Linked DNA regions of Homo sapiens: all the other regions are linked to region 3. Evidence: fine-mapped expression QTL. A gene starts in region 3. Each other region holds a variant in brackets. All regions are shown on one strand. Distances are between the middles of the regions.

Region 1 (8,176 bases), 81 kb after region 3:
GGGGGTCCTCAGGGAAGACCACAGTCTTCATGGCCTGGAACAGGAGCAGGACGAAATTGGGGAAGCTGTGGCCAGTGGAGGGGGGGAGCGTCCAGAAGGGGAAACTTGGCGGACTCTACTCATGTTTCCGACTGGCCCTGAACTGCACACACTCAAAGCAGATAAAAGAAGCCCAGCTAAAGGCTGGTACAAAATGACCTTCTTTATAATGCTGGTTGTGTTCATTGTTCAATATTAATATAGCTGTTCCCGCTTTTTTTTTTTTTGACTAGTGTTAGTACAGTGTATCTTTTAAAATCCCATTAGTTTTCATGTATTTGTGAATTTATATTTAAAGTGGGTTTTGGGTAGGCAGCAATTAGTTGGGTCTTGCTTTGTTATTAAGTCTGACAAACTGCCACTGAATTAGACCAATGGTTATAGATCATTTTCATCTACCATCACTGTTGATAATGGTTGGACTTAAACCACCATCTTGCTATTTGCATTTTATTTATCCTGTCTACTTTTTGTTTCCTGTTCCTCTTAGCCAGCCTTCTTCTGGACTGGGTATTTTTTAATCATCCCATTTAATCACTTCTGTTGGCTTATTCCCCATAACTCTGTCTGTACATATGTATGTGTGCGTGTGTGTGTATACATTTTAGGGTTTATAGTGTGCACCTTCAACTTATCATAATCTATCTTCAAATAATATTACACTACATCATGATGGTTTAATAACCTTACAGCAGCACACTTCCATTCCCTGCCCTCCTTCATGTCCTTGTGGGCACATATTTTATTTCTCTACATGTTCTATACCCAGCAAAACATGCTTTTCCTTCCTGTGCTTCTATCGGGTCTCCTATAATGTCATTTTCCTCTTGTCCAAAGGACTTTCTTTAATATCTCTTAGTGCTTATCTGCTGGTATGATTAATATTTTAGCTTTTATATGTCTGAAAAACTTGATATCTCACCCTGTTTCTACCTTTGTTGCCAGGTACAGAATCACAAATCAACAGGCTTTTCCCGGCAGTACTTTGCAGAGCTTGTTCCACTGTCCTCTAGCTCGCCTCATTTTCAAGGAGAAACCTGTCGTCATCCTTGTCTTTGTTCCTCTGTACCCAGCACGTCTCTTTTCTTCTGCCTGCTGTTAAGATTGTCTCGTTCTTACCCAGTTTAAGCAGTTTGGTTAAGATGTGCCTTCTTCGTACTTCATACTTTTTGGACTGGGATATGTAGCTTTTAAAAAGCAAATTTCAAAAGATTTCAGTCATTATGTCCTCCTTTTTTTTCTGTTTTTTTTTCTTTGTTTTCTTTCTGGGACTCTAAATGTATGAATTTTAGGCCAATTGAAGTTGCCCCCCAATTAGCTTTCTGCTCCTTTTGAAGGGGTCTATTTTCTGTCTGTGTTTCACTTTGGATGGTTTCTATTATATACCTTTAAGTTCATTAATCTTTCCTTTTGTAGTGTCTGTCTAATCTCATCATCTCATCCAGTGAATTTTCTTTATCTCAGAAATGGTTTCATCTCTAAAAGTTAGAATTGGGACTTTTTAATGTTTTTCATATCTCTGCTTAACGTTATCATGTGGAATAGAGTGATAATAACTACAGTTCATCTGTGTCTAGGAATGCCCTCATCTGTGCCATTTGTGAATTAGTTTCAATTTGTTGATATTCCTCATTACATGATGTGTTTTCCTGCCTCTTTGCATACTTGGTGATTTTTTACTGTATGCTAGACATCATGTACTTTTCCTTGTTAGATCCTGGATAGTTTTGCACTCCTAAAATTATTTTAAAACTTTTCAGGGATGAAGTTACTTTACTTGGAAACAATTTGATATATTTGAGGCTTGATTTTAAGCTTTTTTGGGTGGGGCCTAAATTAGTCTAGGACTGATTATGCTCTACTACTGAGGTGATACCATGCTGAAAAAGCTTAATAAGGAGAAAGATCAATCAATAAATATTCACGTATATTCACAAAATATAATGAGGAGAAAAATCAATCAGTAAATATTCACGTAACCCTAAAAAAAGTTAAGAAATGAGAAACAAAGGGGGGAACTGGAGGGTATGTATAGAGAGCGAGGCATAAAATTACAGACCCAGACATAACCATGTCAATACTTATTTAAATATGAGTGGACCAAAGATTTCAGGTAAAACGCAGAGGTTGTCAGAATAGATATGAAAACAAGACCCACACACATGCTGTCTTCCAAAATTGCACTTGAAGAACAGAGACACAGGTAGCTTTAAATGACATTAAAGTTAAAGCATAAACACTGGAAAGGGAGAAGAAGAACTGCCTCTTTATGCAGATATCATGAATCATGTATGAGGAAGTATCTTAAGAAACTTACAAACAACTAGCATAGGCACTGAGAAAGCGTGGTCTACTCATCAACCACAAACAGGAATGAAGCCCTAACATGCCACAATATGGATGAACCTTGAAACTGAAAACATGATGAGTGAAAGAAGACGGACACAAAGGGCCGCATGTTATATGATTCCAGTTATACGAAATGGGCAGATCTAAAGAGGCAGAACGCAGGTTAGTGGTGACAGGAGCTGGGGGAAGGGAGGAACAGAGAGTGACACCTCGATTGATGTGGTGTCTCCTTTCTTGGTGATGCGAATGTCCTGGGGCCGACAACGTGGTGAACGCACTGGATGCCACTGAATTGTGCACTTCAAAATTGTGAAAATAGTGAATTTTATAATATGTGAATTTTACCACCATAAAAACCAAACTATTAGTACAAATAAAATTAGTTTAGCCAAGTTGCAGCATTTAACTTTCATAGAAAAATCGATTGTATGTCTTTGCTCATCAATATACTACCGTGCCACTTATGGTCCTTTTGAAGAAATGAGACAGCTGATGCTAAGATTTACATGGAAAGACAAAAGGGTTAAAATATCCAGAAACAACTTTGAAAAATAAGAACAAGGTTGTGGGGCCCACGCTACTTGATTTCAAAAATTACTATACAGGTATGGTAATCACGACAGTGTGGTTTTGGCATCAGGAAAGACACAGAGGCCAACTGAGCCGAAGGGGAAGTCAGAAAGACCCACATTTATATAGTCCCTTGATTGCTGGTAAAGGTAAAAATTTAATTCTTTCAGAACTAGCTGTTTCAATAAATGGTGCCAGGATAAGTTGATATCTACATGGAAAAACAAAATAACCTTCAAGCCTTACCTCCCACCACATGCAAAATTATCTTGAGATGGATCATGGACTGAAAATTATTAGAACTTTTAAAGTTCTAGAAGAAAACATACAGAAGAATTTTTATGACTTGGGCTAGAATAAACATTTTTTAGAAACAAGATGTGAAAGCACAGATGATAAAAAATGATAAAACAAATTCAGCAAAATTGAAAAGGTTGCTCAAAATTAAACAGAGTTAAGGGAATGCAAAAGCAGACTACAAACTGGCAGAATAATTTTACAAAATCCACATCTGACAATGGGCTTGTACTCAGAATATATGAAGATATCTTATAAATCAATAATTTGAAAACTGCAGTTAAAAATTGAAAAGGACTTGGACAAATACATGACAAAAAAGATATATGACCCATAGGCACATGAAAAAATGATCAACGTCACTTGCCATCAGAGGAGTACACATTAAAAGCAGTCTAAAGTTAAAAAGATTGACAATACTAAGTGTTGACAAGGATATAGAACAATGGGAATTTACATACAATTTAAATTGGAATGCATGAAATTTGGTTGGAATTTTAAATGGAAATACTTTGGAAAATGGACTGACACTATCTAAGAGGTAAAACATTCACTTACCACATGACCCAGCAATTCCAATCCTAAATATTTACCCCAGGAAAATGAAAACATATGTCCACACAAAGACGTGGACACAAGTGCTCACACCAATGTTATTTGTAATACATCCAAACTGCAAACAGCCCAAATGCCCATCAACAGGCAAGTTGGTAACCTACGGTGCATGCATATTATGAGATACTACCCATTAATAAAAAATGAACAAAATATTAAGCCTACACGACATGGATAAGTCTTGAAATCATCAAGTTAAGTGGAAGAGATAGAGTACTGTTCCATGTCTATGAGCTTCCAGGAAAGGCAAAGTTACAGGGACAGGAATCAGATCACTGTCTGCCTGGGGCTGGGAGCTGGAGGAGGGAATCTAAAGGGGCAGGAGAACACTTTTTAGGAGAATGAAATGTTCCACATCTTGACTGTGGTAGATGTTACATGACTGTATACAACTGTCACATGAATGGGCTTTACTGTTTGTGAATGAAACCTAAACAAGCTAGCGAAAGAAACAGAAGGAGCATGGGCCGGCTGAAGCCGTGTCTGCAGGTGGGTGCTGGAGGCCCTGGAGCCGCGTGGCACAAGCCACAAACCTCAGGTGTCTCCCGTGGGTGGCTGGGGAAGATTAAGGCAACCCTCAAGAAGCCCACCAAGGCGCCACTGGGGGCTCCTGTCTTGGGGCTGTGTGGGGCCAGCCTGGGGAGGC[G/A]GGAGCCTCATAAGAGTCCCCTGAAAGCTACTTCATTTCCAAGCAGAGAAGGGGGTGGGGGTGGGGGGTGCAACACAGAAGGGTCTTGATGGAGAGGGTGTCTGCACAGCACAGTGATTACAGCCCAATCAGGGGTCAGACTTCCTTCGTGGACAGCCTGGTTCTCACCTGCATTCGCTGTGTGACCTTCAGAAAGTGACCTACCGTCTCTGTGCCTAGTCTGCTCTTTAGTAAAAGATGGCTAATGAAGTGGCTACCTTACTGGGCCCTTGAGAGAATGAGATGAGAGAATACAGGTACAGCACTGAGAGCAGCACTGGGATACAGTAGGTGTTCATAAATGGCACCTGCTATCATTATTAGTGATCTAGGAATAGGACCTTAGCTTAAACCCCACTGTGAGAAAAAGGGAAAAGCAAGGAGGAGAGGCTTGTCCAAGGCAGCAATCCCATCTTCCAGACACCAGGCCAAGAGTTCTGGAGCCCGAACACAGGCGTGGCAGAGAGCCTTTGCTGCCCTTCCCCTGCCCACGGGGCGGAGGGGAGATCTCGGGCCCCACAGCTCCTGAGCAGGGCTCGGGGGTCACCCTCAGTGCTGGCAGGGAGTGCGGAGTTGCTTTGACTCACTCAGGAGTAGGTTTGAGCCCTGGTTCCTTTCCTTATCACTCAGAGGCCGATGGCGCAGTAGCTGCCTGAGGAACACACAGCCTTTGCAAGTCTTTGGGAAACAGGAGAACTGTCTTCCTTTGTCCGAGAAGCACTCAAGCTGACGGACAGTGGTGCTGCTACTTGCTGCTATTTCTCTCCAAACTTTGGGACTGCGGCCACAGCGGCGGCCACAGCTGTTATTCCTTGTGTCTGCCAAGGGTCTGAGAGTGGCCTGGCGATTCAGCTGTTCCCTGCCCACAGCCCACCCTACGGGATGGGGCCAGTGATGTCGGATCCCTGGTGGTCCTGGTTCTGGCTATCGCTGGAGGGGACACAGACTCCACCTGCGTTGAGCGTGCCGCTCCCTGTGTTCTCCATCTCCATGTTCCCACCTCTTCCTGCTCTTTTCCCCGTGCTTTCAGCTACCTAAGGGTCGCCACTTACCGTCCCTGCAGAGTGCAGAGATTTCTCTTTGAAGAAAAGGTTCTGGAGCAATCAGAGGGGTGAGTGTGGATGCAGCCAGCCCCAGCCCTATGCTGCTCCTCAGACTAATGGTGCTGAAGGCTAAGAGAACGAATAAATGGTAGTGAGCGTTTTTCTCATTAGGGTTTTAAAATCCTCCAAGTAATAGATCATTTTGTAGCATCTTACATGTCCTGCTTATCCTAATAATGTGTTATTACTGAATCTCAATAATTTTAATGGGGAAATTCTTTATCTTAAAAAATGTGAAGTGGCTATCCATTTAAAAAGTGTTAACGAGGTAACTCCAAGGGTTTCAATGAACAAGGAGGCCCATAGCTGTAGTGACCCAGTGCCTTCGTGTTTTAGACACTAGCTGAGATCTGCACACTGGAGCCATGGCCGTGGAGGGAGCAGTGACCAGGACCTGCCTCCCGCAGTTGGGGGCCTTTGGTGCTCAGCCCAGGCTTCTGTGCTGGGATGCAGGGCCAGTCTGTTCACACAGACCAGGATAGGCCCTGGACGCGTGCACAGACAAACCCCCACAGGGGTTCATTTTATCTGGGGTGTGGCAGGGAATCATGAGCTGAACAGAGATGCTGGATGCCGAAAACAGCCTCTGTCCCTGCCTCTCTGCCAGCGCTTGCTGTTTGCCTGGAAACAATCCCTCTCCTTCCTTGGCTGCAGTTTTCTCACCCATGAAGACGTGTTCAATGCAGACGTACCGAGTTTCCTCTGGGTCTTCCTGGTTGCCTGGCGTCTCCAAGTGCTCATTTCTCTTCCTTGCTCTTGCCCACCCCACGGGCCCTTCCCCCGTGAGCGAGCTTCACAGACACACACAGACACTAGTGGTTTGGGGTCCTTAGTTGAGGCCATCTTAACTGGCTTCCCTCACCTCCCGAGTGGCAGGCTAGGAGGAAGCGGTGGTTTATTACAGGGACAGATCACACTGTGCCAGGGAAGGCCAGGAAAATATATTCCCATTTTACTTCCTCTAATAATCTCCTATTTTCATCAGTGGGTGAGTGAACATGGCTTCTTCTTCCCAATGATGGTGCAAATGTATAATTTCTCCCAATGAAATCTGATTTTAATGAGAGACTAAATCAGAGGAAAGAGTATTATTTAGATAGTATATGCACATGTCAGGTTAATTTAAAATCAGCTTTTAGGTCAATCTATCTTAATTATTCTATTAACCGTTTTTGACTAGCAATTCCAATAATTGTGTTTGCGTAATACTTGGCAGTGTAATTGCTTTTTGGATTCTCTTCATTGTTTTGTCAGAGTCTGTTCCTGGGCCTCTGTCCCTGGTGAGCTGTGCTTGGGTTGAGTGTGTGCTTGGGTTGTGTATGCACATTCGTGCAACTGCACATGTGCTTGGGTTGAGTGTGTGTGTACAAGTGTGTGTGTGTGCACATGCTTGGGTTGAGTGTGCAGATGGACGTGCATGTGCATGCATACCTGGGTTGTGTGTGTGTGCACATGTATGTATCTGCTTATGTGCTCTAGTTGAGCATGCATGGGTGTCTATGTGCACATGTGCTTGGATGGAGTGCATGTGTACATGCACATATGTGCAGAAGTGCTTGCATAGTGTGTGTGCATGGGTATCATGTGCATGTGTGCTTGGGTTGAGTGTGTGTGCACATGTGTACATGGGTGCATGTGCTCAGGTTGAGTATGTGCATGTGCACACGTGTTTGGGTTGACTGCATGGGCATGGGCATGCAATGCATATGTGTTTGCATCATGTGTGTGCACAGAAGTGCATGTGCTTGCATTGTGTGTGCATGGGTATGCATGTGTGCACGTGCTTGTGTTGAGCATGTGTGCATGTGCTCAGGTTGGGTGTGTCATGGGTGTAAGGTGCACACGTGTTTGGGTTGACTGTGGGCACAGATGCACACATGCATGCATGCTTGGGTTGAGTGTGTGTGCACAGGTGTGCATGTGCACATGTGCTTGGGTTGAGTGTGTGCCTGGGTGTCATGTGCACGTGTGCTTGAGTGTGTGCATGGGTGTCATATGCACATGTGCTGGGGGAGGTGCTTCCCTGATTATTAATGAATGTATTTTCATGGGGTTTATTGATATCAAGGACCCCTGTCTTTATTTTTTATTTTTAAAATAAACTTCATTTTAGAACATTGTTAGATATAAAGAAAAATTGTGATGATAGCACAGAGTTCCTGTATACTCCACACCCAGGTTCCCCTACTCTTACCCTGTCACATTATACTGTACCTTTGTCACAGTGAATTAGCCCATGTCGATACAGTAGTAGGAACTAAAGTCCATACTTTATTCACATTCCCTCAGTTTTCCCTTAATATCCATTTTCTACCTCAGAATCCAAAGTATGATGTTACAGTTGGCCCTCATGTCTCCTTAGGGCCCTCGCAGCTGTGACAGATTCTCAGACTTTCCTTATTTTTAGTGATCCTGACAGTTTTGAGGAGGACTGGTTGGGTATTTTGTGGAATGTCCCTCATTTGGGACTTGTCTGATCTTTTTCCTGTGATTAGTTTGGGGTCACGGGTTGTGGGGA
Region 2 (8,176 bases), 110 kb after region 3:
TCTTTACCCCCCAAGACCTCACTGATCCTTGGAGCTTTCTACCCGAAGAGTCTAATTACTGGGTCCAGGGTGACATAGGGGAGCCCCGTGGAACCAGGACCATCTGCTCAGGTCTCTCTGCTGCCCTGTGGCTCTGAGGGTCCTGCAGGAGGGAACCGCTGTGACCAGGACAGAGCGGGTCTTCCTGACACTGCGATACTGGCTTGAAGGAAGTGATGAAGAGCACACGTCCCTGGGTGGCCCTAAGCCAGGCTCAGCACTGGGGCCGATGGTCCTATCTAAGCCAAGCAGGCCCCAGAGCTTTCCCTGGTGCCCACAGCTCCATGGTCCAGGGTCTGAGATAGGAGGCTCAGATCTGGGTTGCTGATAAACTAGGCATCTAGTCCAGGGGCTGCTGGAGGCAGGAGGAGCCAAGACCTTCTCCTTGAGCTAAGATGAACTTAGGAGGCCAGGAACAAGGTCAGGAGGGCAGGGAGGAGCTCAGAAGGCCGAGGACAGGCTTGGGAGGCTGAGGACTCGCTCAGGAGGCTGAGGACCCGCTCAGGAGGCTGAAGAAGAGCTCAGGAGATTGAGGATGGGCTCAGGGCCTGGGGACAGGCTCTGGATGCTGGGGAGGAGCTCAGGAAGCCGGGGACAGGCTCAGGGGGCTGAGGAGGAGCTCAGGAGGCTGGGGAGGAGCTCAGGAGGATGAGGATGGGCTCAGGGGGCTGAGGACGAGCTCAGGAGGCTGAGAATGAGTTCAGGAGGCCAAGGCCGAGGTCAGGCGGTGGGGATGGGCTCAGGAAGCTGGTAACACTCTAATCCAAAAGCCCTTGGGCTGAGCAGAGCCCACCACTGGACCAGGGCCCGTGGCCGTGGGGGTCCCCAGGGAAGTTGCAGAGGGTGGTCTGAGCTCAAGGTAGTAGGAGTGGGGGTACCCCCCAGCTTCCCCCACACCCACCCCCATTTCCCTGCACACTGTGGCGTTGTCATGGAGGCGCTCTGCTCAGAGCCAAGCGGACCACACCCCACCATTCAGGCCCAGACACCCAGAGCCACCAGCACTTTCCACCGGGACAGGGCCTTCTGAGACAACTTTCCAGGACAGGCAAGGTGGGGACACCTCTGAGCCCCTTCCAGGAGCATATGATGAAGGAAAGGAAAGAGCAGAAATAATAATACTAGAAGTGGCCAGCAGCAACGGTGTGTCAGACACAGTGCCCAGCTCCCGGCAGAGTGGCTGGACACCGCACCATCTCCAGGCTGTGATCCAAGTTTCCCTCCCAGCCTAACTGTACCGGCTCCCTTTCAAGTGGTCGGCTGGCTGCCTCTTGTCAGCAGGCAGCAAGGAGGAAAAGAATGCCTTTCTGCTTCTCATTGGTAAAACCTTCCGCCCAGATAAGATGAGAGACAAAGATTTGGGAGAAAACCTGCTGCGAGCAAGGCCTGCCCTGAAAGGTGGAGTGCCCTGCACCTGGGCTGTGTCTCCCAGCCGGCCGTGCGGTCCACCGAGGCAGGGGCACATGTGCTCGAGACACGGCCCATGGTGAGGACCTGCACACAGACACCATTCACTCACGCACACACTCACGGAGGACACACCCACCCATATTGACACACTCACACACTGACACAGGTACACATTCACACACTCATGGACACACACACACACAGGCACACACAGACATGCATTCACACCACACACCTACACAGAAGCACTCACACACTCATGGACACTTACATCAGTACAAACACAGACATATTTGCACACGCACACAGACACACTCTCCTATACACCCACGGGGCACACATTCACACTCGCACACACACATCCACACTCACCTACACACCCACACACATTCACACACTCACACTCATGGGCACACACACCCACACAGACACAGAAACTCATGGACACACACACCAATGCAAACACAGATATTTTCACACACAGGTGTACATACACACTCAGCTACGCACCCACACAGGTGGATATGTGTGTATAGGAAAAGACACTCTCCAGGGTCGGGCACTCCCCGGTTTCAGGCATCTGCTGGGGTCCTGGAAGGCCCCCATGGGTGAGGGGCCACAGCGCACGCAGCCCCCAGCTCCTGGCTCTCACCCATTAGAAAGGACACCTGCCGCCCTGGGCATGAGCAGGACTGTGGGAGATTTGGGGTGGGGGCTTCACCGACGAACTGTGGGATTCTCCTCATCTGAGGCTGCTCCTGAGCCCACACGGATTTAGCATTTCACGTGCTGCTCACTAAACTGAGTGAACGAGTGGCAAATCAGCCACTGTGCGAGCCGCCTCTGTGGGAACCCAGGGCCGGGCTCTGCTCTGCAGACCTCTCCCCTGCCCAGGCCTTGGCTCCAGTGGGCACTTGTCCTGCCAGTGGCCATGGCCCTGGCAGGCTCCTCTGTTTTCCTGTCCATGAGCCCCTGCAAGAGGCCTTCTCTGTTCCAGTCCCTCGGCATCCCGCTCTCCTGGCTTCTCTGGGTGAGGAGTGAGGAAGGGTCACAGAGGGTCCTGCCTGCCCGTCAGTACCTCAGGGCCTGCTTGGAGGTGTGTGGGGCCCTTGTCCTCGTCCTTGGGTCTGTGACTCCAGATCTGAGGCCTGTTGGCCGGCCCTGCACCAGAGCTGCCTGCCTCGCTCCTGTGAGGAGGGACCCAGCGGCCCCCAGACAGGGGCAGAGGACAAGGTCGTCCTAATGCTGGGAGACGAAAGCCCCTTGGCGCTGTCCTGCGCCCGCAAGCCCTGCCACCCCAGTTTCCCTCTCGCTCTGCAGACGATGCCCTTGGCCTCATGCCCCAGTGCGTGTGGTGGAAGAGACGCACAGCGCAGCCTTGGGAGCCTGCCGGAGGCCCCCTGAAGGCTCAGCCTGCTGCTCTGACCCCCACACCAGCTGGAGTCCAAGTTTCCAGGAAGACTTCATCTCCCTTGCCCCTCGTCTGGTTCTCGGAGAGCTGGATGGGGCTTTCGCTCAGCAGCACGGGCACAGCTCCACTTCCAAAATGTGAGGGGCAGGGGCCCAGGTGTTGGATGCCTTCAGAGCCCTGGAGCCCCGGGAGGGGCTCTCAAGCCCACCTGCCTGAGTCGGGCATCAGGCAGGGAGAGTGCTGGGGCCTCCGCCCCTGCTGGCCCAGTGATGAAAACCAAGCATGAAGGGTGGGTGTTCATTGGTTACTTGCTGTGTGTGGCCTCTAAACATGCACCATTCCCTTTAATTTTCACAGGCTTCATGGGATGGTATTAGTGTTGCCACCGGACAGGCTGGCCCTGTGGAAGGAACATGGGCGTGGGCAGTTCCTGGCCTCTGGTCTTGACTCCTGACTCGGTTCCACCCCCTTGGGATGCTTGGCCCAATTCGTGGCTCAGAGCCCGGCTCTATCTATTTAATGGGAGCTGCACTTGAGGAGGGCCAGGGAATCATCTGGGCCAGCAGAGGCAGAGGCCCCCGCACGCTCCCTGCCCGATGCCCGACTCAGGCAGGTGGTGAAGGCATCCGAGACCTGAGCCCCTGCCCCTCACACTTTGAAAGTGGAGCTGCGCCCCTGTTGCTGAGCAGAAGCCCCACGCATGCAGGGGTGGGTTGGGAGGGGCCCCTGCCAGAGCCTCTCTCTACGCCGGCCTGGCTGTGGCATGTTCTCTCCAGATTTCCTCCAGGAGACGGCCCTGGTCCCTTGCCACAATAGAAATTATGCCCCATAATTTTCTGTTGTAAAACTTGATCTTTTTCTGCAAGCAAGTCATTAAAACTTCAGCTCTTGCACGCTCCATGTCCCATGAATGCCCAGGCCTTAGCACAGCTTCCGCAGTGCCAGAAGTTCCGTCAATCATGTTGAGTGATTGTAAATCACTCAATCAGTGGATGTAAATATGTGTACAAGAAGAAAGGAAGGAGTGGGGACACGGCCCCTTCCCCACAAGCCTCTCTCAAAAACCCGAACCTAACAGAATACAGGGGTGGAAACATGAACCTTTTCTCCATCTTCTGACCCTTAAGGACAGAGAGAAGCAGCAGGTTGTGATGTCAGTAGGAACTTGCAGACCAGGACAGCTGAGCGCTCACCGACGGCTCGCAGGACACCCTCAGTCACCGCCGCGCCCATCAGAAGAAACAGCAGGAACCAGACATTGCTCTGCCTGCAGAAATCACATCTGAAAATCAACTCTGCTTTGCTCCAAGCGACGGAGCTTTTTCATAAGTATAAAAAACAGCTAACTGGATAAAAACACCTTTCCTGGGGACCTGAGTGCTGCAATTCAAAGGGGCTGGCAGTGTGAGGCTGGAGAAGGGCTCCTGCAAGGCTCTTAGCTGGGCAGGCCGAGGGAGGCCCCTCTCGGTGAGCACGAAATCAGGGATGCCCCGGGCCGGTTAGGGATGGGGCCTGGACACCGTGAGATTTCCAGCAGGCTACACCTGGGGCTGCAGCCGGGGCAGCCCCCACAGAATACTCAGAGGCAGCGGGAAGTGCGGGCTGGTGACGAGAGTGGGAACACTGCCCCACACGCAGCCGCCTCGGTGCCACCTGGCGGACAAGCCGCCCCTGTCCCCCGCTTGGCCTCTCCACATGGCACATTTGCCCCTGGCAGTGCCCAGCCCCAGGTCCGGGTGACTGGGGACAAAGAATACCGATGGAAAAACAAGCTAACGAGCTCCTCCTAGGGAAGAGGCCCGCGCCAGGGAGGAGGCGGCCGTCTGGGCGGAGCTTCCCGATAGCCAGGCCCGGGCGGTGCCAGGACACTCACCTCAGGTCTCACCTGCAGAGCATCCACGAGTCACTCACGCTGGGCCAGGCACAGGCTGTGCACACAGAGGGCAGATCCAGACCACACGAGAGCATAGGTGCCCACGGGTGTGCAGGGATTG[T/C]GGGGGGAAAGGAGTGTGTGCTTGTGTGCCTGTAGGCGTGGGTGAGTGTAGGTGTGCCTGTGGGAGGGCGAGACCATGAGTGTGAGGGTGCGCGTGTGCCTGTGGGAGGGTGTGTGGGTGTGGGTGTGCGTGGGAGGGTGTGATTCTCTGTGGCTATGCCTGATTGTGTGTACATGTGGGTGCACATGCTGCACGTCTGTGCTGCAGGAACCCATAGGGCCAACCTTAGGTCCTAATTCTGGGCTGACCGTGTGCCGTCCCCCACGGGCCCCTGCATCCTCAGTTCCTCATCTGTGCTGTGGGCAGAAGCTGGGCTGCCCCACACTCCAACATCCCTAGAAGGGAAGGGATGGGGGCAGGGCTGGCTGCAGGGACAGCCTCGCCCACAGCAGACACGGAGGCCGCAGGGTCATGCCCTGGATGGATGTCACCCAGGAAAGGTTTTGCCTCCTCCAGTCTTTTAAATCAGGCTCCAGGGGCTACGATTACAGCCCTGGGCTTTCTCCCACCCCTCAGCCTCCCTCCTTAGTAGCTCCACAGCAGCTCCCTCCCGAGAGCACACCACCCCTGCACGCTCGGAGCTGCATCCTCCAGCCCCTCATTCCCCGCTCATCTACTCCGACCCAGCTAGGGATCCGGCTTCCCTCTTAGGGCCATTTCTCCTTTGCCAGCATTTTCTCTTTTTCCCTTCTGTCATGCTCTGCTACGTCCTCATGCAAAATTAAGCCCAAAACGGTTTCAGTTACTCCCAACCCTGAGACGAGTTTTAAAATAGTGACAGGATGAACATTGCACCTCCCATGTGAGGGCTGTAAGGGACTGGCAGTTCCAAATGCATCTTCCACTCGCAAAGTTGCTAACACAAATCCCATGGGGAAAAGGGAACTGCTGACCTTTCAGCGTGCAGATCTTCCCTTTGATGGGTTTGCTTGCCTTCAGAAGAGCCCAGGAAAGCTCTGCACAGAGGCCTGTGTGTTTCCGCCCCTCCTGTAGGAAATGAACGGGTGCGTCTTCTCCGTTGCCTTTATTGATCAAGGCCAAAATCACAAGTATAAATTACCACGGTGGGAAACGAGCTGCTCTGATGAGAGGCAGGTGGAGGAGGCTGCCTCGTCAATAATGCATCTGATCAGAAAGAAGGGGCTGATCAGAGGGAGGCCGGGCTCTTTGAAGGTTCTGGTTTTCCCATGGAAAGCTCCACCAGCTCTCTGCCTGCCGAGTTCCTGCTCTTGCCCAGACGGGAAGTGCGAGTAGCTTTCATATCAGACCTGCCGCTCACCGCACCGAACTGATTCCATGGACACTGACATTTGTCTCTGCAGCAGGGATGGCCGCCCTGGCCCAGGCTCCTGTCGCTGTGGATGCCTCTGTCTGGCACAGACTTTCGGTGTTAGAGCCCCAGGTGAAGGTCTGAAGCAAGAAGGAAAAGGACACAGAATCCCATCCCTTCTGAACCTGCGGGGTGCAGCTGCCCTGAGATCCTGTAGCATTTCACTGGGAGCCGACAGGGATGGTTTGCGCGCTGCCGGGATGCGTGAACAGGGGAGTCCATGAGGCCCCAGGGCTGACTCAGGGCACGTGCAGTTTGGGGAGCAGCCAGGGAGGCCTCCCGGGCAGCCGGTTGGAGGACAGAGCTGAGGACATGCAGGCTGTCTTCTATGATCAAGGGTGGGTGAGGCACAGAGGAACTCTGGTGACTGGATGCAGCCGTGAGGGGCCGTGGCCCAGAGAAGCACAGCGGTGTCTCACCTGGCTTCTCCGCAGGCCTCAGACTCATGTCCTCAGGTGCAGGTGCCGGGCCCTCCTCCAACAGTGAGCTCCAGCTGCCTCCCCGCTCAGGGGCCACTCTGCTCTGATACGGGCTCTGATACCGGCCTGCAGCTCCCCTGCTCTTGGTTTCTGCCTGGTGTCACCTTCTTCCACGACACCCAGTCCCAGGATGACTGACGCCCAGGGAGATCTGTCGCCTCTCCTCAGAGACCACGTGTGTTCACCCTCAGCAGCAACACGCTGCTCCTTCCTCAAGGCGTCCTGAGGCATTGTGCATTTTCACCATTTCTGGGATGTAAAGAAGGAGGAATATTTGTCAGATAGAGAGAATACCGGTTCAGATGGTTGGTGGCTCAGATAGAGGTGGGGTTTGTTCCAGCCAGCAGCCCGTCCTGAGAACCAGGCTGGAAGAAACACCCTTCCCTGTGGCACCACAACACCTACACCGAGGTGTCTGTGCTGCCTGGAAAGCACAGCGGGTCTCCCCAGTGCTGGGGTCATCCGGAGAGCCAAGCACCTTCCAGAGGGGCCTCGAAGTGGGGGCGCAGGCCCCCCAGGGTGCTCAGGCCAGACCGCCTCCTCTCAGGTGGTTCAGCAAGAGCTTCCTTCTGCCTCAGATCCTTCCAGGGTGTGGACTCTCTTTTCTTATGATTCTTTTCTGACTTCACCTTACGTCACTCCTCTCCAAACCTAGATGGTAAGCCCGGTGAGGGCAGGGACCCAGCCTCCCTCATTTGCAAAGCAACCACAGTCCCTGCCTTTGAGCTGGGCTGCGGGTGCCAAGCTGGAGAGCATTTCGCCCTCTCCCACTGCTGCTGAAACAGAAACCACAAATTTAGTGGTTTAAAATAGCACAGATTTCTTCTCTTGCAGAGCTGGAGCTCAGAAGTCCGAAATGAGTTTCACTGAGCCAAAGCCAGGGAGTCAGCAGGGCTGGTCCCTCTGGAGGCTGCAGAACACCTGCTCTGCACCTCCTCCGACCTCTGCAGCTACTCGGCACCCAGGACAGCTGTGCGGCCTCTGCTGTGTCTGAGCTGCTGTTGTTCCATGGCCCTCTCTGTGAGCTTGCTGTCTCCCTCTCATAAGGGCCCTCTCATAAGTCATCTGGATGACCCAGAACAACCTCCCAATCTCTAGACACTTATCCCGACTCCATCCATAGAGCCCCTCTTGCATGTAAGGTAACGTGCCCACGGGTTCGTGGGATTAGGATGTGCACACCTTTGGGGGCCTGATGTAGCTGACCATGCCCACATCTGGTGGGAACCCACCTTCAGGGTTTCTTCTCCTTGGACACAGGCTACAGCCCAAGCCAAATGTCCCAGAGCCTGGAGCAGGGCCCCCCTCCCCCACTTTCCCCAAAGAGGCTGGCGCGGGAACAAAGCCCCTGTGTGGTCAGGAGCTGGGAGGGCAAGACAACAGGACAACAGGACAAGAGGACAACAGAACAACAGGGCAACAGGGCAACAGGACAACAGGGCAACAGCCATCCCAGCTGGAGAAGATTCTCAGGGCTGAGGTGGAGGAGGTCGGGCCTCAGCCGGGCTCAGAG
Region 3 (8,176 bases):
GCAAACAACTCAGCACCCGGCAGAGAGAGCCAGAAACAGCCCCGAAGAGCTCAGGAGAACCTACCTGCTGGCCTGAAAGGGGACACCTAAGTCCTGTGTCAGCAACTGGACAGAACCCCAGGCTGCTGGGACCCTTTCAGCACCAAGGTTGCTTCTGAGACACACATGAAGCTAATGCCTGGGACTGCTGGCCTCATCACACAGCGCAAAGAAAGCCCTGCCTTCAGGCTGTCATGGCCTCTGCACCTGCCCACAGCTGTGTGCACCCAGGCCCACTCCCTGCAATCCCCGGGGAGCAGCTGCTCCCACTAAAGGGCCTCAGCCCCGCCCTCACTACCTCTCCAAGCACTGGTGACAAATGGGACCTTCACAAACAATCGCCTACAAGCTGAGAACAATGGCACCAAACCTCCACGCTCAGAAGCTGCAGTGGCATATTTTCCTGAAATCAGCAACTGGATGCCCTTTTTTGTCCAATTCAGCAGATCCCAAAGTACCTGGAGATGTTGCCTTCAAACTCCTCCATCTGGGAGGCCCAGGCCTCCGTCCTGAGCCCTGCCTATGTCTCCTCAGTATGAAACTGCACAGCGCCTTGCTGAGGTCTGACGAAGGACGGCTTCAAAACCACAAGAAGCAGGCTCATGGCTGTCTCCCCACCCAGCCAGGGTCGTGTGTAGAAAAGCAGGAGAGTTCCATGCACACGCTTCCGGTGGAGGGGTCACCGCCGCCAGAGATACCCCTCTATTCCTCTACCCCAGGAGGGAAGGACTCTGTCATCCAGTTGGCACCCCCGGGACCACCCAGGTGAGGACGCAGAGCGCAGTGGACCGGCTGTCCAGGCGTCTCCCCGCTCATCGTGCGGCAGATCAGGAGCACATCCAGTGTGAGAGCACACGAGACGCGAGCCCTCTGTCCCTCCTCGCTGCCCGTGCAGATTGCTGCAGGAGGTGACGCTGCCGTAATGAGCAACGGCCTCCCAGACCTCTCTAACACATAGCCTGCCCCAGCAGCCCTGATGCCACACAGCCGGCACACAGACGGCCCTGAGTGCACCCAAGGACACCTACCCACGCTGGTGATCCTCTGGGAGCTGAGGTCGTGCAGCAGGGCCTCGATGGCCGGGTTGTGTCTGGAGTACAGCTCGTACCGGTTGATACCAATGTGGAACTTGAGCCAGTTGGGATAGGAGTCCACGGCCGCCTCCCCGGGGGAGAGGAATTCTGCACCTTCAGCACCCGCATGCGGCCTGCAGGGAGCAGCGAGGACGAACATCAGCATGGAAAGAACAGGCCCGTGAGTCGGATGACGGGGAGAGGGCACCGACGCCAGTGTTTTTAACTTTGGGTTCAAGCAAGTGCAGATGTGTTGAAGGCGCCTCTGCTTAAAGAGGGCCCTGCAACGTCTGCGCTTTCTTCTGTGGCCGCTCGGCTGCCAACTAATAACACGGTGAAAGGCCTGTAATTCTTACTCACCCTCTGGAGACACCACAGACAGCTCTAACTACAGCAAAACTAATTCCAGGACGTCAGCGCTGCCCTGCCATCCCCGCCACGTCTGTCCCAGGGTCACCGAAATGGCCCAACCATGACCTCAGCTGAGGGTGCGAGGGGCTGTGGCCCTCCCCTGGAGTAGAGGGGAGAACCTACCATTGACCACAGGCTGCATGAAACTCACAGACACGCCCAGTCTGTCAGGAACCTTCCCCAGCTCTCTGCTTTTGTTCCAACAACCAGGGGCACAATGATGCAAGAGGCTAAATTTGATTTTAATGAGAGCAGCCTTGGGTGGGGAGAGAGGAAGGAGGCAGCACTCTCTCCAGCCCAGGCTCCCATGGAGGACCCGCCGCCCACGCAGCCTGTCCTCACATCTCTGGGGTCAAGGGACCGTTCTGGAGGAGGGACAGACCCTCCGTCTGCCTGCTGGGCTGGAGGGAAACGCGGAACTTGTCCTAGCTCGAATTCACCTAAAGCTGAGGTGCTTTCTGCCGAAGCTCTGTCCTGCGGTGGACACGGGGGCGGGGTGGGGGGCTAGGATACACTTCCTGGCCACTCGCTGCTCTGGGCGGCCGTCTCTCCCTGCCGAGAGCCACAGCCCAGGCCAATGCTCTGGTTCTCAAATTTCCAAGCATTTCCTTGAACCTGACCAGCAGGCAAGGCTCAGAGGCTTCCAAACAGCCAGTGTGTTTAGACAGAAGACACTGGGCCTGGACATTTCAGGGAAGAAGGGACTTTCAACCAGATCTTTTGGAAGGCTGGTCTCCCCCTCTGCTGCTGGGGTAACCTTCGGCAGGTAGTTACTTATTCTGGCCTTGTCGTGGTTAATGTTCCACTGCTTCGGTGTAGCATCTGCTTGTTTTGATCTGTGTGGCGGAGGGAGGGGCCGGGGGGTGGGGAAAGGGCTTAGCCAGGACAGTTTAAAGAGAGGTTCCTGCCGTGGCTTCTCGCCCTTTATCGAGCCATCATCTCTTTGCAGCCAGCACACCCACCGCCCTTGCTGGCTGGGCCGCCTTGTTGCACCTCACGGCTGCCAGCAAGCCCCTCTGATAATTCTGCTCCAGCCACTGGGTTTAAAAGACTCAATAGGCACATCCAGACCTTCTCCAAGGTGCCCACCCAGAGCACCCTCGCCAAGTGTCTGAAAGCCCAGCGGCAGCCTGGCTCCTTCCCTCACCAACTCATTCATTCATTGCCTGACCCCATTTCCCAAGCTGGTGACCACGGCTGGTCAGGACTCGCTTCTAAAGGGCGCGGGGTCTGGCTTCCTCACCAGCAGCCACAGGGCACAGCTCCCGGACCAGCCGGCAGCCCCTCCCAAGGAGGAGGTTATTCTGGAGACAAAGGCAGCGCCCTGAGGTAGGCGGCTGCCTCCTCCCGCACCACACTCCCTGCCCGGCCTCTTCCATGGGGGGCGGCCCTCTGGGGCCCCTGAACCTCTCTACACCATGCCTTGGGCTCACGGCTCCCTTGGGGGTGGGCACCTGCCAGCCCCCACTCACCAGTCCGGGTTCTCCGCCGCTTTGGGGCTGAGCCTGGTGTCGCTGTTCACATTGAACAGGACGTCCTCCTCCGTGAGCGGCGGAACCGCCACCCGGTAAAGCGGGTGCTCGAACAGCCTGGCCAGGAGGGAGGCGTCTCCGCCGGGGCCGGGGGGCGACTCGGACCGACGCGGGCCGGGGTCTCGCAGCAGCGGCCGGTGCGCGGGGTCGTGGGGTCTTAGGGCGCCGGGATCCCGCCCCCGCAAGGCGCGCTCGGCCGGCTCGGCCGCGGGCGGCAGTTTCTCCAGCGAGTGGGACGAGAGGTTGGAGGAGGGGTCGGAGCTGAAGTCCTGCAGGATGCGGAGCGTGTGCTTGTTGGGCCAGCCCGCGTCGCCGGCGGCGGAGGAGGCGGCCGGGGGCTCCCCGGGGCGGCCCCGAACCTGGGCCCAGCCGGGCGCGGCCACCTCGGCGGCGGGCTGCGCGCACGAACAGCCGGGCTCCCCCGAGGGCCGCGCGCCGCGTCGCTCCAGCCTGGGCAGCAGGTCCAGGGCGATGTGCAGCGCGCAGGCCACCAGGAACACCATCAGGATGAGCACGCGGAACCGGCGCACCAGCATCATCTTCATGGCCGCGCGGGCCGGCCCGGGCCTGGAGCGCGTTCTGCCCGCGCGCCCCTCTAGCTGCAGCTGGGCACGAGCGCGGCGCCGCCTCGCGGGTCAAGGTCCATCGGTGCCGGGCGGCTACCAGCTCCGGGGCTGTCCCCGGGCCCGGGCCGCGTGCAGGGCGCCCGCCGCCGGAGCGCTGGGTCCCCGCGCCATCTCGGGCCCGTCCCCGCTCGGCCTCTCCGGAGCGGCCGCGCCCTCAGCCGGGGAGCCCAGGGGTCCTGGTCCGCGGAGCCGGGCGCGCGGGGGGCGGCTGGGGCCGCAGCAGGGGGAGGCTCGGCGCTCGCAGCCGCCGGCGCGGGGCTCATCGGGCGTGTGGGTCCATCCCGGCCGGGGCGCGACGGGCCTGGGCGGTGGCGGCGGCCGCAGGCGTCCCGATCCTCAGCGCGCTCCTCTCCAGGCGCCGGGCGGGCGGGCGGGGAAGGGGCGGCTCCTCCGGGCCGGGCTCTGCTCTCACGCCGCGCCCGGGAGACCGGGGCTGGGGGGAAGGGGGGGGCGAAGGGCGGAAGGGGTGGGCGCGGGGAGCGGCCGGCGGGGTCCCGGGCAGGTGCAGCGGCCGCCCCGAGCGCAGCTCCCGCCTGGCCGAGCCTCTCGGCGCCCCGCGTCCCGGGCGGGCAGATATCGAGCGCCGCGGAGCCGCCCCCCGCGTCAGCGCCCACAGATTGGCGGAGCCGCCGCCCCACGAGTCACGGCTGGGCCCGGGCCGGCTGCGCTCCCGCTCTCCTTCCTCCTCCCCTCGGCCGCGCCCCGCGACGCCTCTGAGCTCCGGGCCCGCTAAGGAGAGGGCTCCTCCTGCCCGCGGTTTGCAGAGGGAAGCGGCGGAGACCGGGAGGGCGCGCTCGGTTCTGGCCAGGCCAGCAGCTGCGGCCGAGTGGGGGGCTCCGGCCTGGCCGCTTCCTGGGACCCCCTCCCGCCCGGGGCCGCCGCCGCCAGCTGCAGCCTCTCGGCTCCTCCCCAGAGGAGCGCGGGGCCGGGGCCCAGGCCAAGTCCCTCCCCGGAGCCGCGGGGCGTCTGCGCCGCCGGATGAGCTCCCCGCCGGGCGGCGACCCCGTGCCCCACGCCCGTCTCGGCAAGGAGGAGGCGGAGGCGGCCCCGCGAGAGAGGCCCAAGGAGCGACTGGGCCTGGACCCAGGGGACGCCAGGGCAGCGGAGCTCCCGGCACCGGTCCCGTCCCCCCCCCCCCGCCCACCCGCGGGACGCGCCCGCCTTAACCCTCCAGGCGCCGGGCCCGCTGGGGGCGCTGAGAGGGGCTGGTGTGCCGGGGGCGCCTTCCTGCTTGGGGCCGACGGGGGTGTGTGAGTGCAGGCGTGTGCGTGTGTGTGCGCATGTGTGTGTGTGGATGTGCGTGTGCGTGTGTATGCCTGTGTGTGTTTGTGTGTGCGTCTGTGTGCATGTGTGTGTGCACATGCATGTGTGTTCACGTGAGTGCATCTCATCTGTCACCCACAACCAGGGGAGCGGTGCTTGTACAACCAGCTGGTGGCTTCTGCAACCAGCAGCTTCTGGCCGTGCAGCTCCCTGTAGGGAATATGAGTTAATCTGGATGTCAGCCTAAGATGTAGTCAGGGAGGTAAGTGTGTGGGAGGAGGCCACATCCCCTGTGCCTCAAGCCGGCTGCTTCCACAGTGCCCAGACTGCCTGGGCCAGCAGCCTCGCCAGCAAGCCCAGGCGGGTGGGCCGGGAGCAGGGCCTGGGCCCCCCCTCTTACTTTCACCGGCTGGCTGTGTTACCAGGGCCCTCTCCGCCCTCTCTGAGCCTCAGTTTCCTCTGATGTGAATTAAGGGCGTTGAGCCCATTGTTCCTGAGGAATCACTCATCTCTGAGCCTGGCCCATTGCCTGGCATTCCGTGGGCACCCACTAGATACTTATAAGGGGAGAAGTTGTTCCAGTCCGGCTGGCCAGTGGAATCCATGCGTCTTGGGCCATTTGAAGTGAGTGAAGGGCTGGGTGCGGCCCACCTGGAGCTGGACTGGAGGCTGTGTTGGGTGGGGCGGTGTGACCTGGAGGTGGGCTGCCCCCTCAGGAGACAGCTTCACCCCTGTGAGTGGACCTCATCCTTCCTTCCTTCCACTCACATGGACAGCACATCTGTGTGTAGACAGGGTCACTGAGAGAGGCCAAGGAGGGTGAGGAGGAAGATCCCGGGTGTGGGGGGAGTCCTGGGGGAGCAGACAGCAGGGACAGAAGCCTGTGGCAGGAAGGAAGGTCTTGGCCTGTGTTCTCCCAGCAAGGGTCCCCTTGGACTTGGAGTTCTATAGGCTCCTGGCCCCCCCATCTCTCCCGTGGTCTACAGGACCTCGACGCAGAGCTGTGGCTAGTGTCTTGGGGCAGACATGGGGCTGAGCAGACCCCATGGAACACTATTATCCGGTGTGGGGGGCCTCATGGAGGTTCCCTGGGCACTTACTTTCACTTGCCTCCTGCCCCCAACTCCTCTCCCCTCCCATCCTCACCCCCAGAGTGGTTTTTGGGAGCCCGGCAGCTATCTGGACCCGTGTGCACCCCTGGACGCCTCCCTCCCTCGCAGAGGGTCCTGGTTCATCTCGTCTGTTGCCTCTTAGAACAGTGGCCTCTACCTCGCCAGGTCCTTCAGAAGCGCCCCCCTCCCTGCCCCGCCACTGTTTTCCCAACAGCACCCGCCGTGGTCTGAGGACACTTTCTTCTGCTCCTGTTTATTGTTTATCTCCCCCAAGCACAAGCAGTCGAGTTAAGACAGGAGCCTCGTTCAAAGTTCCGCCCGGGGCCAGGCACAGCGCAGGCTCTCAGAGGAGGGCCCAGGAGTCCACAGGCTGCGGCGGCGCGAGACAAAAGTCGGAAGACAGGACCCCGCTGAGGAGTGAGGAGACAGCGGCCAACCCTCCGCCAGACCCTTCCGCCTGGTGCCTTTACTGGGCTCTGAGGAGGAATTTGGTGGTTCAGTCGGCCCATCCGTGGACACCATAAAAACAAAGAGAAAACAGACACACACAGATGCACACATAGATACACACAGATACACACAGACACGGATATATAGACACACACAGATACACACACGTGGACACAGACACACACATAGACACAGATATATAGACACACACAGATACACACACGTGGACACAAACACACACAGACATACCCATAGTTACGGATATATGCATGGATACACAATACACAGACACACAGATGATACATGCATAGACAGATATATGGACACACACACACGGACACACAGATACACACATAGACACATAGACAGACACAGATACAGACACAGGCACATGTAGACACACATGGACATACAATACTCAGATGAACACAGAGATAATATACACATAGACACAGATCTATAGATACACAAAGACATACACACAGATATACATAGATGCACACATAGACACAGATACACATGTCATCACACATGGACACACACAGACACACACCAATACACACATAGACATACGAAGACACAGGTACACAGACACGTATACACACAGACACGCATATATACATACAGACGCAGATATACACACAGACACAGACATACACACACACACAGACACAGATATACACAGATACATGGACAGATACACATTCACATACACACATAGATACACAGAAACACACAGACACACAGACACATAGAGACACACACACAGCCACACAGGCCCTGAGCCTCCCTGGGCCCTCCCTTGTGCAGAGGCGGAGGGGCTGGCTGTCGGGGAGGGCACCTGGAGAGGACACACAGCCCCATCAGAGACCAGGGAGTGGCTCTGGGAGCTCTTTTCGTCCAAAGGGGCTGGAGCTCCAGTTAGCCAAGGTGAGCGCCAGGTGGTGACAGGAATGACATAGGAAAATAAGACGGCCCGGGCAGGGAGGGCTGCCTGCTCTGGGTGTGAGGGGATTGCTGTCTTAGACCACGTGGCCCAGGAAGGCCTCCAGGCATGGCTTTGCACAGAAGCTGGTACCTGAGGGCTCAGCCCCGTGGAGGCCTGCGGGGTGGAAATGCCAAGGCTGGGGCAGGGGCATGTCTGACCCTCTGCGGGGAGAGAAGGCCTGTGAGGTGGGCATTGTGTGAGGGGCCAAGTGGCCTCTGTAAGGTCTGCAGGTGGGGCCAGGCTGTGGGCTGCGTCCTGAGTGAGGGGGCCGTGGGAAGGCTGGGGACAGAGGGACGACGCTGGGTCTTGGGTCGGGAGAGGCTCACCTAGGGGCCGGGTGGATGGGTCTAAGGAGGGCTAAGGGCGGGGCAGGGAGAGCAGCTGTGTGGTGAGGACGAAGGGAGGTCGGCCAGAGCCCCCGGGGAAGGGCTGTTGTCATGTGGATGAGCTGGGAATTAGGAAAGCTTGTGGATTGCGAGGCCTCAGTATGCAAAGCCCTGGGACAGACGGGCCCCCCAGGAATGAGGGGGGCAGACGGGCTCCCCAGGAATGAGGGGGGCAGACGGGCTCCCCAGGAATGAGGGGGACAGATGGGATCCCCAGGAATGAGGGGGGACAGATGGGTCCCCCAGGAATGGGGGGGGCAGACAGGCTCCCCAGGAATGAGGGGGGCAGACGGGCT

What was found. PIP is the estimated chance that this variant, and not a neighbour inherited with it, causes the effect.
Region 1: its variant is fine-mapped to the expression of FAM20C in whole blood (GTEx, PIP 0.95).
Region 2: its variant is fine-mapped to the expression of FAM20C in blood mononuclear cells (TOPMed, PIP 0.97). The same link has a PIP of 0.9 or more in monocytes.

What each region holds. Positions count from the first base shown.
Region 1 is chr7:107,275-115,450 of GRCh38, reverse strand. LOC105375114 (a long non-coding RNA gene) reads left to right here. Exons shown (of 3, transcript XR_926959.3): 3 at 1-2,795. Among named protein-coding and RNA genes, the nearest start is that of LINC03015, 38 kb to the left of the region's middle. RefSeq lists an enhancer at 6,061-6,777. The variant G/A (reference allele first, on the strand shown) is at 4,517.
Region 2 is chr7:78,866-87,041 of GRCh38, reverse strand. The region is part of intron 1 of LOC105375113 (a long non-coding RNA gene); the gene reads left to right. LOC101929756 (a long non-coding RNA gene) reads right to left here. Exons shown (of 3, transcript NR_187733.1): 2 at 5,748-6,912; 3 at 3,693-4,127. Among named protein-coding and RNA genes, the nearest start is that of FAM157D, 47 kb to the right of the region's middle. RefSeq lists enhancers at 1-503, 1,228-1,951, 1,952-2,675, 3,969-4,739, 4,740-5,512. The variant T/C (reference allele first, on the strand shown) is at 4,855.
Region 3 is chr7:188,624-196,799 of GRCh38, reverse strand. FAM20C (FAM20C golgi associated secretory pathway kinase) reads right to left here and starts at 4,229. Exons shown (of 10, transcript NM_020223.4): 1 at 2,996-4,229; 2 at 1,068-1,246. The coding sequence starts at 3,600. LOC124901808 (a long non-coding RNA gene) reads left to right here and starts at 6,682. Exons shown (of 2, transcript XR_007060632.1): 1 at 6,682-8,176. RefSeq lists enhancers at 475-1,452, 7,877-8,176.